Regions from separate parts of the Homo sapiens genome. Here all the other regions are linked to region 1. Evidence: fine-mapped expression QTL. A gene starts in region 1. Each other region holds a variant in brackets. All regions are shown on one strand. Distances are between the middles of the regions.

Region 1 (5,344 bases):
GTGTTAACCAGGATGGTCTCAATCTCCTGACCTCGTGATCCGCCCGCCTCAGCCTCCCAAAGTGCTGGGATTGCAGGCGTGAGCCACCGCGCCTGACTTCTAGCACTGTTCTTAAACAAGGGGCATAGTGTCATGACATCATTACCCTAGAAAAGGAAGTGTATCCTAGCAGTCCATGGTTGTAAACATTTACACAGGAATAACTTAACTGCTTATTAATATATTTCATATTTTCTCATTTTTTCATATTTTAACATCTCTGAATGGGATTCTTCTTACAATCAATGGTGTGTCATGGTTTAATTAGTTATTTTTTCCTCTTTAGTAGTAGATAAAATAATGATGCGTCTTACAATGAATAGCATGTTGAATTTGATGAATTGTGTGTGCCAAGCACTGCTTGAAATGCTTTATAATATACTTTTCCTCATCCAGTCTTCATAGCTGATGTTACCACCATTTTGAAGGCTCAAAGATGCTAAACAATAGGTTCTAGGACTGCTGTCAAGTAAGTGGCAGAGCAAGAATTTAAAATCAGGTCTGATTTCCAAGATCATGCTCTTATTGTTATCTCAGCACTTACCTTGGGTGATACAAAGGTGAATAAAAACCTATCCTTGTCTGAACTGCTCAAATAAAGGTCTAGCTCAAATATGATCTTTCTGAAACCTTTCCAACTCCCCAGGAAGAATACATCTTGTTTTCATCTGTACCCCCTCAACATTTTAAGAATACCTCTATAATACCTATAATCTTATTATATTATATAATCTCCCTGGGCCCTTAGAAGTCAGGAATATTCTCTTAACCATCCTTTTGACCCTACAGTGCCTACCACAGTTCTTGACATATAGTAGAAGCTCAATAATGTTTCTTAAAAAGGAGACAGGGTCTCTGTTGCTAAGTCTGGGAGACAAGAAATGCACATAAAGCTAAAAAAAAGTCAAAAGTAGTGTTTAGGAGAATTATATATTTAAGTGCAGTACAGTTTAAAAGAACCAATGAGGGCCGGCCACGGTGGCTCACGCCTGTATTCCCAGCACTTTGGGAGGCCGAAGTGGGTGGATCTGAGGTCAGGAGTTCAAGACCAGCCTGGCCAACATGGCAAAACCCCGTCTCTACTAAAAATACAAAAAATTAGCTGGGCGTGGGGACGGGCACCTGTAGTCCCAGCTACTTGGGAGGCTGAGGCAGGAGAATGGCTTGAACCCGGAGGCAGAGGTTGCAGTGAGCCGAGATTGTGCCATTGCACTCCACCTGGGCAACAAGAGTGAAACTCCATCTCAAACAAACAAAAAAACACCAATGATAGGAGGAAGTACAAGAGGATACAGCTCAGCCAGCTTCCAGGTTTTCACCCATACACACACACACCCCAGTGTGAAAAAGCTGAAACCGTCTACAATGGCTGAAACCACGCTGCTGAGACATTTTTGAATTTTAATTAGTTAGCAACACTTATAAATTAAGTTTCACATAAAACCCAGGATTTCTGGATTTTCCTGAGAAACGAAGACATCTCAGAAACTGGGTGCTCATTCTCCTAGAGAAATGGGTTGGATTTGGGTATCAAATTCTCCTTTCAGATGAACTTAATGCTCACTTATCCATCGTAGTAACTTCCACCATTTGTTTAGGCTCAGCTTGCATAAGATAATTTATTTTCTCTCGCCAGTCTAGGCATCTGGGTTTAAGACCCCTTCTCTAGATACATTACTCACTGCACTATCACACTATGAATTTTCAGGCATCCGTGCTTTGACTTCCACTTTGCCTAGAAAGTCCTTTGCTATCTCCAAAAGTACTCCTACTCCCCTAAGGCACTGCTTCAATTCCTTTCATTAGCTTCTTCTGACCACTCTCTCAACCGTGTCACGCAGCACTGTGGTAATACCTCTATTAAAACCCTTATCAGAGCGTATGCACAAGCTTCTCCTCTTCGCGCTGACGTTCGCTCCTTGAGGCCAGCGGCCCACAACTAACTCATTTCGCGGTTCCAGCTTCACGTCCATGCCCTGGCACCTACACCCAGTCGTTCAGTACCTTTGCGGAAGTCAGTCTTCTTACTTCACGGCAAACCCAAGCTAAACTAATATTACGACCACAGAAGTTGGGCTGAGGTAGAAGTCAAGACTATCCCAATAACTGGATTCTGGCCGAGAAAAAGGCGCGCGCCAGCACCCCAGTCAGTAAAATCTACCGGGCAAAGTTCGCCGCCGCCACTATCCTCCTCTGGCTCTGAAATAGTTCCAATTCTCGCGAGATTCGGCCTGACTACCAGCCCTTCAGCTCCAGTGAGTTGCGGGTTGGTTTCCTCTAGACTCTCGTGGCCACACCGTTCTCCGATACGAGCCTTTCCGGTGCTATGCCCCGGAAGCGGAAGTGCGATCTTCGGGCTGTCAGAGTTGGTCTGTTACTCGGTGGTGGCGGAGTCTACGGAAGCCGTTTTCGCTTCACTTTTCCTGGCTGTAGAGCGCTTTCCCCCTGGCGGGTGAGAGTGCAGAGACGAAGGTGCGAGATGAGCACTATGTTCGCGGACACTCTCCTCATCGTTTTTATCTCTGTGTGCACGGCTCTGCTCGCAGAGGGTGAGAGCGGGTATTTCTCAGACGTTTGATCAGTCCCCGGGAGGAAGGGCCCCGGGGTCCCCTGTGCCACCAGGGGAAAGATCGCGAGCCTTACTTGCTTGAGAGGCTCATCTACTCCACTTCAGGGAATCTCTGGGCAACTCGTGAACAGGAGCAGGAGGGGAGTATGGAGTCGATTGCCGAGTTTTCTTTGGTCTCAGGTAGATTTCACTTGGGTATTTGTGGAGACACCTTCACATCATGTTACTGTTGTTTTGGCTGAAGAGTCAGTTGTATTAGCCTTTGAAAAAAGTTAACTATGGGTAAATACAAAGCGAAAAGTTGGAATTCCTCCTTCTCCAACAGTAACCACTTTGTTTGTTGTGATCATTCCAGTCATTTCTCTATTAACATGTTGCTTTTAATGTTTTAGGCATAACCTGGGTCCTGGTTTACAGGACAGACAAGTACAAGAGACTGAAGGCAGAAGTGGAAAAACAGAGTAAAAAATGTGAGTATGGCAACACATTAGAAATAATTTCAACACGTCAAGCTCATTAAGTCCATGTTCACAATAAATATTTTAAGAGCACCAGCTGATACAAAGATGAACCTGACTTGAAGCCTATTTAGAAATAGAAGACTTTTATGCAAAATGTGTAATACCAACTAGAGGGAAGTGAGGGGCGTAGCAGATACATGTTATGTGCTGTGGTGGTTCTAAAGAAGAGGTTCAATCTGGCGCAGTGGCTTACTCCTGTTAATCCCAGCACTTTGGAAGGCTGAGGCAGGACTGAACTTAGGGGTTTGACACCAGCCTGGGCAACATAGGGAGACCTCGTCCCTACAGAAAAAATTAGCTGGGTATGGTGGTACACACCTATAGTCCCAGCTATTTGGGAGACTGAGGCATGAGGATCCCTTGAGCCCAGGAGATTGAGGCTACAGTGGGCCACGATGGTGTCACTACACTGCCTCCTGGGCAATAGTGAGACTTGTCTTTAAAAAAAAAAGAAGAAGAGGCTTCATTCAGTTGTGAGGAACCATGGTAGCCTTCATGATGCTGATGGCCTTGCAGTTCCTTGTGGATAGTTAGAATTTGGATAGAGAATGAAATGGGGAAAGGAAATTCCAGGTAAAGAAATAACATATGAGCAAAAATATGGAAATCTTAACATTTAAGGCATGTTTGGAGGATGATATGTCATTATGACTGGTGTCAAGGTAAGTGGTGTCTTCAGAGATAAGCCGAGTTTCAGTTGGGTTAGAAAGTTGAAGAGGTGTTTAAGGAAAAGATTAAAAACAAGAAGGGTTTGTTACCTTTGAAATAAAGCAGGAATTCCACAGGACTCAGCTAAAGGTACAGGGTGAATGGTTCCTTATAGGCCTGATTTAGTTTTCTCTCTTCTTTTTTTCCTTATAAGGATTAAATATAACTTTTGTTTCTTAGAATTCCTACAACTTTCTGTATTCTGTGACTTTTTCTTATATCTTCATAGGGGTTTGAAGTTTTTTTTCTTAAATTACCATATTTGATCTACACAGCAACCATTTGTGGTTACTCGTATAAATATTACCTCCATGTCATAGGAAAGAAAATTGAGCCTCAGGATGATAATGACAACTTACGTCACAGAGCAAACAAAGAATTAGAGACCAGACTCAGGCTTTTAAAATTACAGCTTACTGTTCCTTAATTTACTCAGTGTTGATTATGTACCTCAGCATATCTGGGCCAAACTCGTTATCTTTACCTTCACAAACGTGATATTCTTCCAGGATTTCCCTATCTTGGTGATGGGTACCTCCATGCTTCCAGTAGTGTAAGCCAGAAACCTTGATATGCTTTATTAATTTGGCTCCAGGACACCATACTTTCGGTTTTGCTGCTCTCCATCTTACTAGTCATCCTTTTTTTATTTTTTATTTATTTATTTATTTTTTGAGACAGGGTCTCACTCTGTCACCCCTCAGAGCTCATTGCAGCCTGGACCTCCCAGGCTTAAGCGATCCTCCTGCCTCAGACTTCTGAGTAGCTGGGACTACAGATGCACACCACCATGACTGGCTGATATTTTGGAGAGATGAGGTCTTGTTCTGTTGCCAGGGCTGATCTCAAACTCCTGGGCTCAAGCGATCCTCCCGGCTAGGCCTCCCAAAGTGCTGGGATTACAGGCATGAACCACAGTGCCCAGCCCTTACTGATCATTCTTCTGCAATTTACTTGATGGTTTCATTTCTTGACCTCCCGTTGTTGGGAGTGACACAAAATTTAGTTTTTTTCTCTACATTCACTTCCTTGGTGAACTTATCTTTTGGCTGTATTGGCCAGTGACTCCCAAATTTATGTCTGTGGCCCTCTCTTCTTAATACAAGATTCATATATCCACGCATCAATTTGTTATGTCAGCTAGAATGTTTGGTGGACAGCTCAGTCCCAACACGTCCCAAATTGAATACTTGTTCCTCATGTCTAAGCCTGTGTCATTTGTAGCCTTCTTTATCTTGGTCAATGGCATTTCTGTCCTTCCACTTGCTCAGGCCATAATTCTTGTGTAGTTATCTTTTACTCTTCTTACAACCCACATCTAGTCTGTCTGCAGATACTGTTGGGTTTCCTTTTTGAAGAAACACCCCAAACCAGTAAAGGTTCAGAAAGCTTCCGATATCCAGAATCTGACCACTTTTCATTAGCTCCAGTGTTAACCACTGTGGTCTAAGCACCATGATCTTTTGCATGGATTATTGCAGTAGTTTCCAACAAGTGTTCCTGTCTC
Region 2 (5,000 bases), 24 kb after region 1:
GTTTGCTACTACTGTCTATAAGTAGCTTATCAATTTTTTTTTTTTTTTTTTTTTTTTTTGAGACAGAGCCTCACACTGTTCTCTGTTGCCCAGGCTAGAGTGCAGTGGCACGATCTTGGCTCATTGCAGCCTCTACCTCCCGGGTTCAAGTGATTCTCCTGCCTCATCCTCCCGAGTAGGTGGGATTACAGGCAGGCATCACTACGCCTGGCTTATTTTTGTATTTTTAGTAGAGATGGGGTTTCACCATGTTGGCCAGGCTAGTCTTGAGCTCCTGACCTCAAGTGATCCACCTGCCTCAGCCTCCCAAAATGCTGGGATTACAGGCGTGAGCCACCATGCCCAGCAGGTTATCAATTTTTGTGATTTTATTTTCTAATTGGACATCTTCCTGAACTCTCCTAGCTTTTAATTTGATTCTCTAGTTTTCTAGATAGATAATCATATGATCAGACAAATAATATTGTCATCTTTTCCAAATTCTCTTTTCCCTCCATCCCTTCCTTTCTCTCCATCACTGTTCTCTAGTTCTATTGTGCAATGAATTAGAACAACCAGAAGAGGGTTAAATACTCAAAGGTAAAATACCAACGATACTGCAGTAAAGATGGGAACAAGATGAAGAGAATGCCCATATCACTGCTATGATATTTATGAAATTTTTAAAGAATGGAGGTTTTCAAAGCTATATGCAAGCATATGTGATATGTTATCCTTAATAGAGTTAATAATATAATAAGCACTTATCAAATATTTGGTGATTAAGTTATTAGACCTTGGACCAGTATTGAAATGCCAGATTATTTTTGCAGTTCATCAATATAAAATACTAGATGCTGTGTGTGTGTGTGTGTGTGTGTGTGTGTGTGTGTGATATAGGTCTTCCAAGCTATAGAAGTCAAAGAAGTCAAGTAGAGTATCTTCAAGGAGGAAAATTATATGAAAGCTTCATTATAATCAGGTTTCTTATAAAAGGATATGTTGGCAGGAAAGAAGGCTATTTTTTTTTTTTTTTTTTGAGATGGAGTCTAGCTCTGTCGCCCAGGCTGGAGTGCAGTGGCACAATCTCGGCTCACTACGACCTCCGCCTCCTGCATTCAAGCAATTCTTCTGCCTCAGCCTCCCAAGTAGCTGGGACTACAGGCATGCACCACCATGCCTGGCTAATTTTCTTATCATTGCCTACTACCTACTCTGTTTTGTATTGTTAGTACAGAGGGGGTTCCACCATATTGGCCAGGCTGGTCTCAAACTCCTGACCTCGTGATCCACCCGCCTCAGCCTCCCAAAGTGCTGGGATTACAGGCGTGAGCCACCGCTCCTGGCCTTCTTTTTTTGTTTTTATGTATATTATTTTCAGCAACTTTCTTATTCAGAACACTGGCAAACAATAGCTTTTTATTTGCTTGTTTTGTTTTCCCAAACTAGTGGAGGTTCGCATAATATATTTTACCAATATTAGTGCTGTATTCATGTTTTTGTTCTGGTCTTTGTACCCTGTACATTTAAAAAAAATATTGTGTCTTAGATTGTCAGCACCTAGAAGTTAAAGGCTGTACATCTATTTTTATAAACTGGCATATGAAATTAAAAGTCTAATACATGTTTTGATTATATTGGACAAAAGTTATTCAGTCTTTAACATAATTTCTCCAAGTTTAACTTTGATCATCTGTTTTTGAGACCAGATCTTGCTCTGTCACCCAGGCTGGAGTGCAGTGGTGTGATCACTATTCACTGCAGCCTCAACCTGCTGGGCTCAAGTGATCCCCCTACCTTAGCCTCCTGAGTAGCTGGGACTACAGACATGCACCATGACACGTGGCTAATTTTTTTTTTTTTTTTTTTTTTTGGTAGAGATAGGGTTTCGCCATGTTGCCCGGGCTGGTCTCGAACTCATGGCTTCAAGTGATCCTCCTGCCTCGGCCTCTCAAAGTGCTGGGATTATGAGACATGAGCCACCACGCCTGGCCAAGACTATAAGGGATACTAAAAGATTATGTAAGCCAAGAGTGGTGGCTCATTCCTATAATCCCAGCAATTTGGGAGGCTGAGGCAGGAGGATCACTTGAAGCCAGGAGTTTGAGACCAGCCTGAGCAACATAGGAAGACCACAGCTCTACAAAAAAAAAAAAAAAATTAGCCAG[A/G]CATGGTGCTATACCTCTGTAATCTCACCTTCCTGGGAGGCTGAGGCAGGAGGATTCTTTGAGCCCAGGAGGTCAAGGCTGCAGTGAGCCATGATTGCACCACTGCATTCCAGCCTGAATGACAGAGCGAGACCCTGTGTGAAGCAAACAAAAATAATATCCCTTACACTCTTAAAATTTGTTAACAGCTGGCAGATGCTTTAAGGAAAAAAATCTATGGTTAGACTAAGAAGGGAAGGACTTGAACTCCCAGACTGCCAGAAAAAGGACTAGATATAGCTACTTATTTAGTAGCTGTATCTACTTTTTGGCATCTCTTCCTGAATCATTTACATAAAGTTGAAATAACAGGATTTTAGAATTGAAATTTTTTTTTTTTTTTTTTTTTTGAGATGGAGTTTTGCTCTTGTTGCCCAGGATAGAATGCAATGGCATGATCTCGGCTCACCACAACCTCTGCCTCGCGGGTTCAAGTGATTCTCCTGCCTCAGCCTCCTGAGTAGCTGGGATTACAGGCATGCGCCACCATGCCCGGCTAATTTTGTATTTTTAGTAGACACGGGGTTTCTCCATGTTGGTCAGCTGGTCTCGAACTCCCAACCTCAGGTGATCCGCCTGCCTTGGCCTCCCAAAGTGCTGGAATTACAGGTGTGAGCCACCGTGCCCAGCCTGAAAGAGATCTTAAAAGTCATTTAACACATAACTTCTCTCCTAATACAGAAAGCTCATCACTAATGTCTCTAACAGATAATTTGTCATCCTTTATTTCCAACAATGAGGAGCTTAGTGGTTTCTGAGATAACTAGTACTTTTATTGAGTAGTTTTTAGAGTTTGAAAATAATTCGTTTTACTGGGCCAAAATATGCCTCCCTATATCTGTACTTGTGAGCAGTGATCCTGCCCTCTGGAGTCATAGAGTAAGTGCACTTAAAGAAATAATCCACCTATTGTAAATCATCTCTCTCTTTGCACCTTCCTTCTTCTCTTCCCAGTTTTTTTCTTTATTGTGCTAGACACCAATTTCTGTTCCTTATAACAAGCTTCTATTCCTGTAGGACTTTGAGAGGCTGAGGCAGGCGGATCATGAGGTCAAGAGATCGAGACCATCAAGGCCAACATCGTGAAACCCTGTCTCTACTAAAAATACAAAAATTAGCTGGGTGTGGTGGTGCACATCTGTAATCCCAGCTACTCGGGAGGCTGAGGCAGGAGAATCGCTTGAAGCAGGAGGTGGAGGTTGCAGTGAGCTGAGACGGCGACACTGCACTCTGGCCTGAGTGACAGAGCGAGACTCCATCTCAAAAAAAAAAAAAAGGAATTATCAGAAGATTTTTCAGATTTGTTGCTGGTTTAAAGTCTCATGCATGTTCAACTTCATATAATTAAATAACTTATATATAAAGATATAAAAGATTTTATATCGCTTGAACCCGGGAGGCGAAGGTTGCAATGAGCCGAGATTGTGCCACTGCACTCCAGCCTGACCGACACGGCAAGACTCCGTCTCAAAAAAAATAAATATTAAACATTTCTCATTTTTAATTTCTAATACAGTAAATATTAATAACTATAAGCTACAGAAACACAAAGTTTTTAGGGTCCTAAATAATTTGTCAGTATATAAAGGGGTCTTGATACCAAAAGAATTGAGAATGACTAATTTAGGAAAAGATTGATGAGAATAATCTAGGCTCTTCTTTACATCACCGTACATCAGGTTCATGTGTATTTTTAGCATGTCACCCTCTCTTTGTTTTTCAGAGATCAGAGACTTAAAGCTCTATTTCTGTCCCAGATTCTTCTTTGGAAGTAAGAAAGTTGTCAGTCTTCCAAAGATAACAATTCTTTTTTTTTTTTTTTCTTTTAGATTTGATGGTAGAGTGGTGGCAAAGCTTCCTTTTACCCCTCTTTCTTACATCCAAGGACTGTCTCATCGAAATCTGCTGGGAGATGACACCACAGACTGTTCCTTCATTTTCCTGTATATTCTCTGTACTATGTCGATTCGACAGGTGAGTGATCACATCTACCATTTAATATGTATATTTTTCCTTGCTGTCATACCAATTAGCTTTTACTTTTATAATACTAGAAATGTTTACCCATTGTTCCTGAGTTCTTTCAGTTGCTCATTTTAGAATTTCAGTGTATCTTCCAAAAGCCATTTTAAATGGCTGTAGGTCTAGATGACTGATCCTTAGGGATGAGAAGTAGTGATAAAACCAAACATGGATTCCACATCCCATTCTTAGAGCTCTCAGGCTCCTTCTTTATTACAACTGCCTAAAGCTGCAAAAGTAGAGAGTGGGTTTGGTCTTCCCAGTACCATTTCTTCATTATATACCAGCACCATTTAGCGGCTCAGGAGCACAAGTAAGTTTAACAATGTGGTAATTTTAGGTTATTCACAGTTGAGATAAAGTTTAGGTTATAGAATTTACATTTGGCCAACTTGGTGATTTGACATTCGTAGTGAAAAAGAGTGAGAACTAAGGAGTAAAAGGGTTATGAAGGCCCGGAAGAGAGCTATAACATTCGATTAGTGGGGAAAGGTTCAGGCAGAAAGGTTTAGAGAATGAAGTGGCTTTCGAGATGGGCCTATGGAAGTGAAAAGGTGGCCAGGTGCCGTGGCTCATGCCTGTAATTCCAGCAATTTGGTAGGCTGAGGCGTGAGAATCACCTGAGCTCGGGAATTTGAGACCAGCCTAGGCAACATTGTGAGATTCCATCTCTACAAAAAATTTAAAAATTAGCTGGGTATGGTGGCATGTGCCTGTAGTCCCAGCTACCCTAGAGGCCGAGGTCGGAAGGTCACAAAAGCCTGGGAATTTGAGCTTGAAGTGAGACTTGAT
Region 3 (5,344 bases), 53 kb before region 1:
TTGGGAGCTTGGTCACCAAATCCCATAGCTAGGGATGTTCAAATCACATTTGAGCCTACCATAACAATTACACTGCAGATTCTGAATTAAGTGGTTTTGAGCTGTCCTCCTTTTCCTCCCACTAAAAAAAAAAAAAAATCTAATTTTTTAACAAAATTCAGAGTTAGAACAGATTCAAGGAAATACATTTTCTTGGTATCTGTGATGATTTTTTTTTCTTTTACAGATTTCAGTCTGATCAAGTTCTGGCCTAGTTAACATTTGGGCACGAAGTCAGCATGAGTATGCAAGTGCAGCTGTAGCCAAAGAACAATAAGAGACATTGCTGTTGACAGTCCTTTGTCTGCCTGCCTTCTCCCCTTGAGTAGCCATAGTTCTGAACTAGACAAGGAACGTTACATTTTGCACCCAACTGAAATGTTCTTTCTCTAGGTGCTTCATGCACCATGATCAGTTCTCTATTTGTTTATCTCATTCCCCAGCCAGAAAAATAGATGTTATCACACTTCATCATGTATCCAAAGTATTATCGTTCTCTGTATTACCTTTCTAATTACTTTCCACCTTTTATCAATCAGCAGTTGCTTTGTCAGATCATAAGTACTGTTCTGAAAAGATGGCTGGATGACGTTAAAGCTCTCTGACCTTAATCAGTCACATCCAGCTCTGTGACCTTAATCAATTACATTCTCAGGTACTGTTAGGCAGCACAACATAGTGCAGTCTCAGACTGGCAGCAGCAGCATCTGGGAATGCAAATGCTTAAGCACCACCCCAGAACTAGTAAATCAGAAACTCTGTGTGTGGAGCTCCACAGTCTGTGTTTTATAAGGCTTCCAGGTGATTCTCATGCCCACCAAAGTTCGAGAACCACTGTTCTCGTGCAAAGAAGATGAATAAGCTCTAGTCAGAAAACAAAGATTTATAATCTTACTTTGTTACTAACTTTATAACCTTTGACAGGTTACATAATTTTTCTTTTCTTTTTTTTTTCTTTTTTTTTTTTTTTTTTGAGACAGTGTCTTACTCTGTTGCCCAGGCTATAGTGCAATGGTGCTATTTTGGCTCACTGCAACCTCTGCCTCCTGGGCTCAAGCAGTCCTCCTGCCTCAGCTCCCAAAGTAGCTGGGACTACAGGCGCCAGCCACCACGCCCGGCTAATTTTTGTACTTTTGGTAGAGGTGGGGTTTCACCATGTTGCCCGGGCTGGTCTCAAACTCCTGAGCTCAAGCTGTCTGCCCACCTCAGCTTCCCAAAGTGCTGGGATTATAGGCAAGAGCCATCACACCAAGCCAGCTTACATAATTTCTATAAACCTCAGTTTATTCAACTGCTAAATGATAACTCACTCACAGGATGGTTATGAAAGTAATGATACACATTAGTACACAGTAGTTGTTAAATAAATACTGTTTCCCCTTCCCCCCCCATTTCTGTCACAGCTCTCTGATTTATCACAGATATCCACCATTTAGGGGTCAGGAGTTCCAAAAGTAAGAATTCCTAATCCCCAAGGGCACTTTCTTTCTTTCTGTATTTTTTTTTTTTCATTTTGAAATAGGGTCTCACTCTGTTACCCAGACTGGAATGCAGTGGCATGATCATAGCTCACTTGCAACCTTGACCTCCCCAGGCCCAAGTGATCCTCCCACCTCAGCCTCCCAAGGAGCTGGGACTACAGGTGCACACCACCACGCCCGGCTAATTTTTGTATTTTTTGTAGAGACGGGGTTTTGCCATGTTGCCCAGGCTGGTCCCTAACTCCTGGGCTCAAGTGATCTTCCCGCCTTGGCCTCCAAGAGTGCTGGGATTACAGGGGCACTTTCAAATAAAAATTAAAAATTAATGTCCAGAATGGGCCCCGTCCGATGTAGATTTGTGGTTGCCTATGGCTAGGGAGGTTAGTGTGGGAAATGGAGAGAGACTGCTAATGGGTCCAGGATTTCTTTCGGGGTGAAGGAAATGTTTTAAAATTGTCGTGATGGTTGCACAACTTTGAATATACTAAAAGCCATTGAATTGTACAATTTAAATTGGTGAATTTCATGGTATGTGAATTATATCTTAATACAGCTGTTTTAAAAAAATTGGTGTCAACCAGAAGGCTAGAAGAAAGAGTTTTAGGAAATGGGAACAGAAATGGGCAAAAGCAAAGAGAAATGACTGAGATTTAAAAAGACGGCATCAGAGAACGTCATAACCTGTAAGACATTACACAAATGTAGGTTATT[A/T]ATTTTGTTGAATTTGACATACACCCTCTCTCAGCAAAGATAATAGTCATTCAAGGGTCCTTAAATTTTAGTTGGCCCAACTTCAGAAATCTCGTAAGAAGAAGCCTTCACAGAATTGAAAAAATTAATATACAGATTTCTGTATGTTATAGAGATTTTCTGATTTTTCTCTCCCTTCCCCATACCAGGACACTTTCTAATGTGATTCTTTGAAAATAGGCTGAGATAAAGTCAAGAGTTCTATTGTCTTGCCCAGCCAGCTACCAGCACCTGTTAAGAGCAGGCCCCAGAATCCGTGTTTTATTCACCATGTTCTAAGCTGTTTGGCTTCATCCTGTTTACCTAGACCCATATCTGATCCTTTACTTCTTTTCCTGTCACCAGTCTTAATCGTTGCTATCCCACTTTTATGCAATGACTTCTTTCATTTTCCCTAATTAGTTCTTAGGTTACTGTCTCTGCAGATAATCTACTACTACCCCTTCCCTCCTCCTGTGGCTGACGCTCTTTCCATCAGGTCATAATGGATGCATTATAGTTGGTGATATAGAGCTGGGATTAGGGTGAGACAAGGGATGTGCCTTGAGTGCAAAAAGTGAGGAGGCACTGACTCTTGGGTTGAGCAAACGCAAGTGCAGGGTGGGAAAGGAGCAGCTCCTTCATACCCTAGGCACCCACTTTGCCTCACCCTCGTCTCAGAGCTCTGGTGATTGTCAAGAGGAGAAGCAGAGGATGGTACTGCTGATGGCATCAATGTCAGAGAAGTAGTTACATTTAGTCTAGTGGCTTGTATTTGAACTGGTGGCCAAGGATGGCAGGTTTGACTTTCCTCAAGATGATGGGCTGAGGTGCCAAGTGATGTTGGAAGCCAAATGAGGTTAGATAGATTAGTTTTTGCTCAGTATTCATGGTATGTTACTAAAAGTTACTTTGGTGTCTTGAAGTGAACTCTCCCCAGGTCATTAGGAGAGAAGATTAGTTTGGTTTTCCTTCAGAATGAAATTATAGCTGTTCTTAGGCAAGGAGGCCTAAGGCTTCAAGTGATGAATGCTAGTGTTTCAGAAATATTTTTAGTCAGAGACGCTGAGAAACAAACAAAAGCAACAGACTCCCCAGGAAAACACTGTGTATGCACACACACAAATAGAATGTTGAGGATAACTCAAAAGGGTTCAGACAGCTCAAGAAACCCATTCATGAAGAACTCCAAAGATCCTTGATTAAGAAACCCTGGTGTAACTGGAAAGGCCTTGAACTGAAGAGAGAAAGTCAGTTAAGCAAGTTCTCCTTTCAGGGTGGTGGAGGAGACTGGTTTGATCCTTGGGTACCTCTCCTGAGAGAGTTTGCAAGATCTTCAGCTGGTTAGGTCATCAGAACTAGAAAAATAAGATTTAAAAATTATGTGTGTATCTGTATCTACATCTATGTATATATCTACATTATATATATACACATTATATATAATATACATACTATATATAGTATATATATAATATACATACTATATATAGAGTGTATATATATATATATAGTATATATAATATATACTTTTTTTGGCTGCTCTGTCACCCAGACTGAAGTGTAGTGGTGTGATCATAGCTTACGGTAACCTCAAACTCCTGGCCCCAAGCAATCCTCCTGCCTCAGACTATATATGTATACATACTATATATACTATAGTATATATAGTATATAGTATGTATAGTATGTATAGTATGTATAGTATATATAGTATGTATAGTATGTATAGTATGTATAGTATATACTATAGTATAGTATATATAGTATACTATATATATACTATACTATAGTATATATATAGTATATTTAGTATATATAGTATACTATATATACTATATATACTATATGTATACTATATAGTATACTATATATACTATGTATATTATATATAATGTAGATATGTATATAATGTAGAGATATATACACTATATATACTATATATAATATATAGCATATATATTATATATATTTTATATGTATTATATATATATTTTATATATATATACTTTTATTTTTGAGACAGGGTCTTGCTATGTCACTCAGGCAGGGGTGCAGTAGTGCAGTAGTGCAATGTCAGCTCACTGCAACCTCTGCCTCCTGGGCTCAAGCGATCCTCCCGTCTCAGTGTCGCAAGTGGCTGGGACTACATTTGAGTGCCGTCACACGGGGCTGATTTTTGTATTTTTTATAGAGACAGCGTTTTGCCATGTTGCCCAGCTGACTTCGAACCCCTAGACTCTAGCAATCTGTCCACCTCAGCCTCCCAGAGTGCAGAGATTACAGATGTTAGCCACTGTACCCAGCCTGTATCTTTTCTTTTTTGTTGTTTGTTTCAAGTTTTAATCAAAGCTTGTACATAAGATTACTTTATTTTTGCATCTTCTCAATTGTTTCTTCCTAGTATTTGCCCTTTTCCTTTCCTACTTGGCGAGATTTGGCTTTCCATTCAAGGATCTTTTTGCTGTCTTTGTCCAGTTTTAGCCTAGTGATAGCCACCTTTCTGGGGTGAATGCCTGTGTGGACAGTTGTGCCATTAGTCTTTTCCCGCTGCACCCATTCAATGTAGATGACATATTTCTTCCTGTAAACCTGGACTACTTTACCAATTTGCTGACCTTTATAGTGCCCTCGTACAACCTGAACTTCATCATCCTTTCGGATGGGCATGGATTGCACATTGTACTTCTGTCTCAGCTCTTTGGAAACAGGGGAAGACATAATCTTCCTGTGAATGTGGGAAGGTGCATTGAAATGCCTTTTGCTATTTTTGATTTGGTTGGAAGTCACAAAGGGATTGAACTTCATTTTGGCCGCTCTGTCACCCAGACTGAAGTGTAGTGGTGTGATCATAGCTCACGGTAACCTCAAACTCCTGGCCCCAAGCAATCCTCCTGCCTCAGACTCCTGAGTAGCTAGGACTACAGGCATGCACCACCATGCTTGGTAATTTTTTTTTTTTTTTTGTACAGACAGGGTTTCACTATGTTGCCCAGGCTGGTTTTGAACTCCTGGCCTCAAGTGATCCTCCCAAAGCTCTGGGATCACAGGTGTGAGCCACCATGCCTGGCCTATGTACTGTGTGTGTATATGTG

Direction of the effects. Alleles are on the strand shown, and positions count from the first base shown. SD is a standard deviation of normalised expression in the study named.
As copies of G replace A in region 2, the expression in fibroblasts of the gene that starts at base 2,402 in region 1 goes up (small effect, 0.28 SD a copy in GTEx).
With allele T in place of A in region 3, the expression in stomach of the gene that starts at base 2,402 in region 1 is lower (small effect, 0.23 SD a copy in GTEx).

The links.
Region 2: its variant is fine-mapped to the expression of TMCO1 in fibroblasts (GTEx, PIP 0.91).
Region 3: its variant is fine-mapped to the expression of TMCO1 in stomach (GTEx, PIP 0.99).

What each region holds. Positions count from the first base shown.
Region 1 is chr1:165,765,926-165,771,269 of GRCh38, reverse strand. TMCO1 (transmembrane and coiled-coil domains 1) reads left to right here and starts at 2,402. Exons shown (of 7, transcript NM_019026.6): 1 at 2,402-2,588; 2 at 3,001-3,078. The coding sequence starts at 2,519. It overlaps TMCO1-AS1 (TMCO1 antisense RNA 1), which reads right to left and starts at 2,341. Exons shown (of 3, transcript NR_125374.1): 1 at 1,895-2,341. RefSeq lists enhancers at 1,439-2,114, 2,115-2,791.
Region 2 is chr1:165,742,327-165,747,326 of GRCh38, reverse strand. TMCO1 (transmembrane and coiled-coil domains 1) reads left to right here. Exons shown (of 7, transcript NM_019026.6): 6 at 4,016-4,160. Among named protein-coding and RNA genes, the nearest start is that of TMCO1, 24 kb to the left of the region's middle. The variant A/G (reference allele first, on the strand shown) is at 2,148.
Region 3 is chr1:165,819,066-165,824,409 of GRCh38, reverse strand. It overlaps the pseudogene RPL26P12. Among named protein-coding and RNA genes, the nearest start is that of UCK2, 5.9 kb to the left of the region's middle. The variant A/T (reference allele first, on the strand shown) is at 2,232.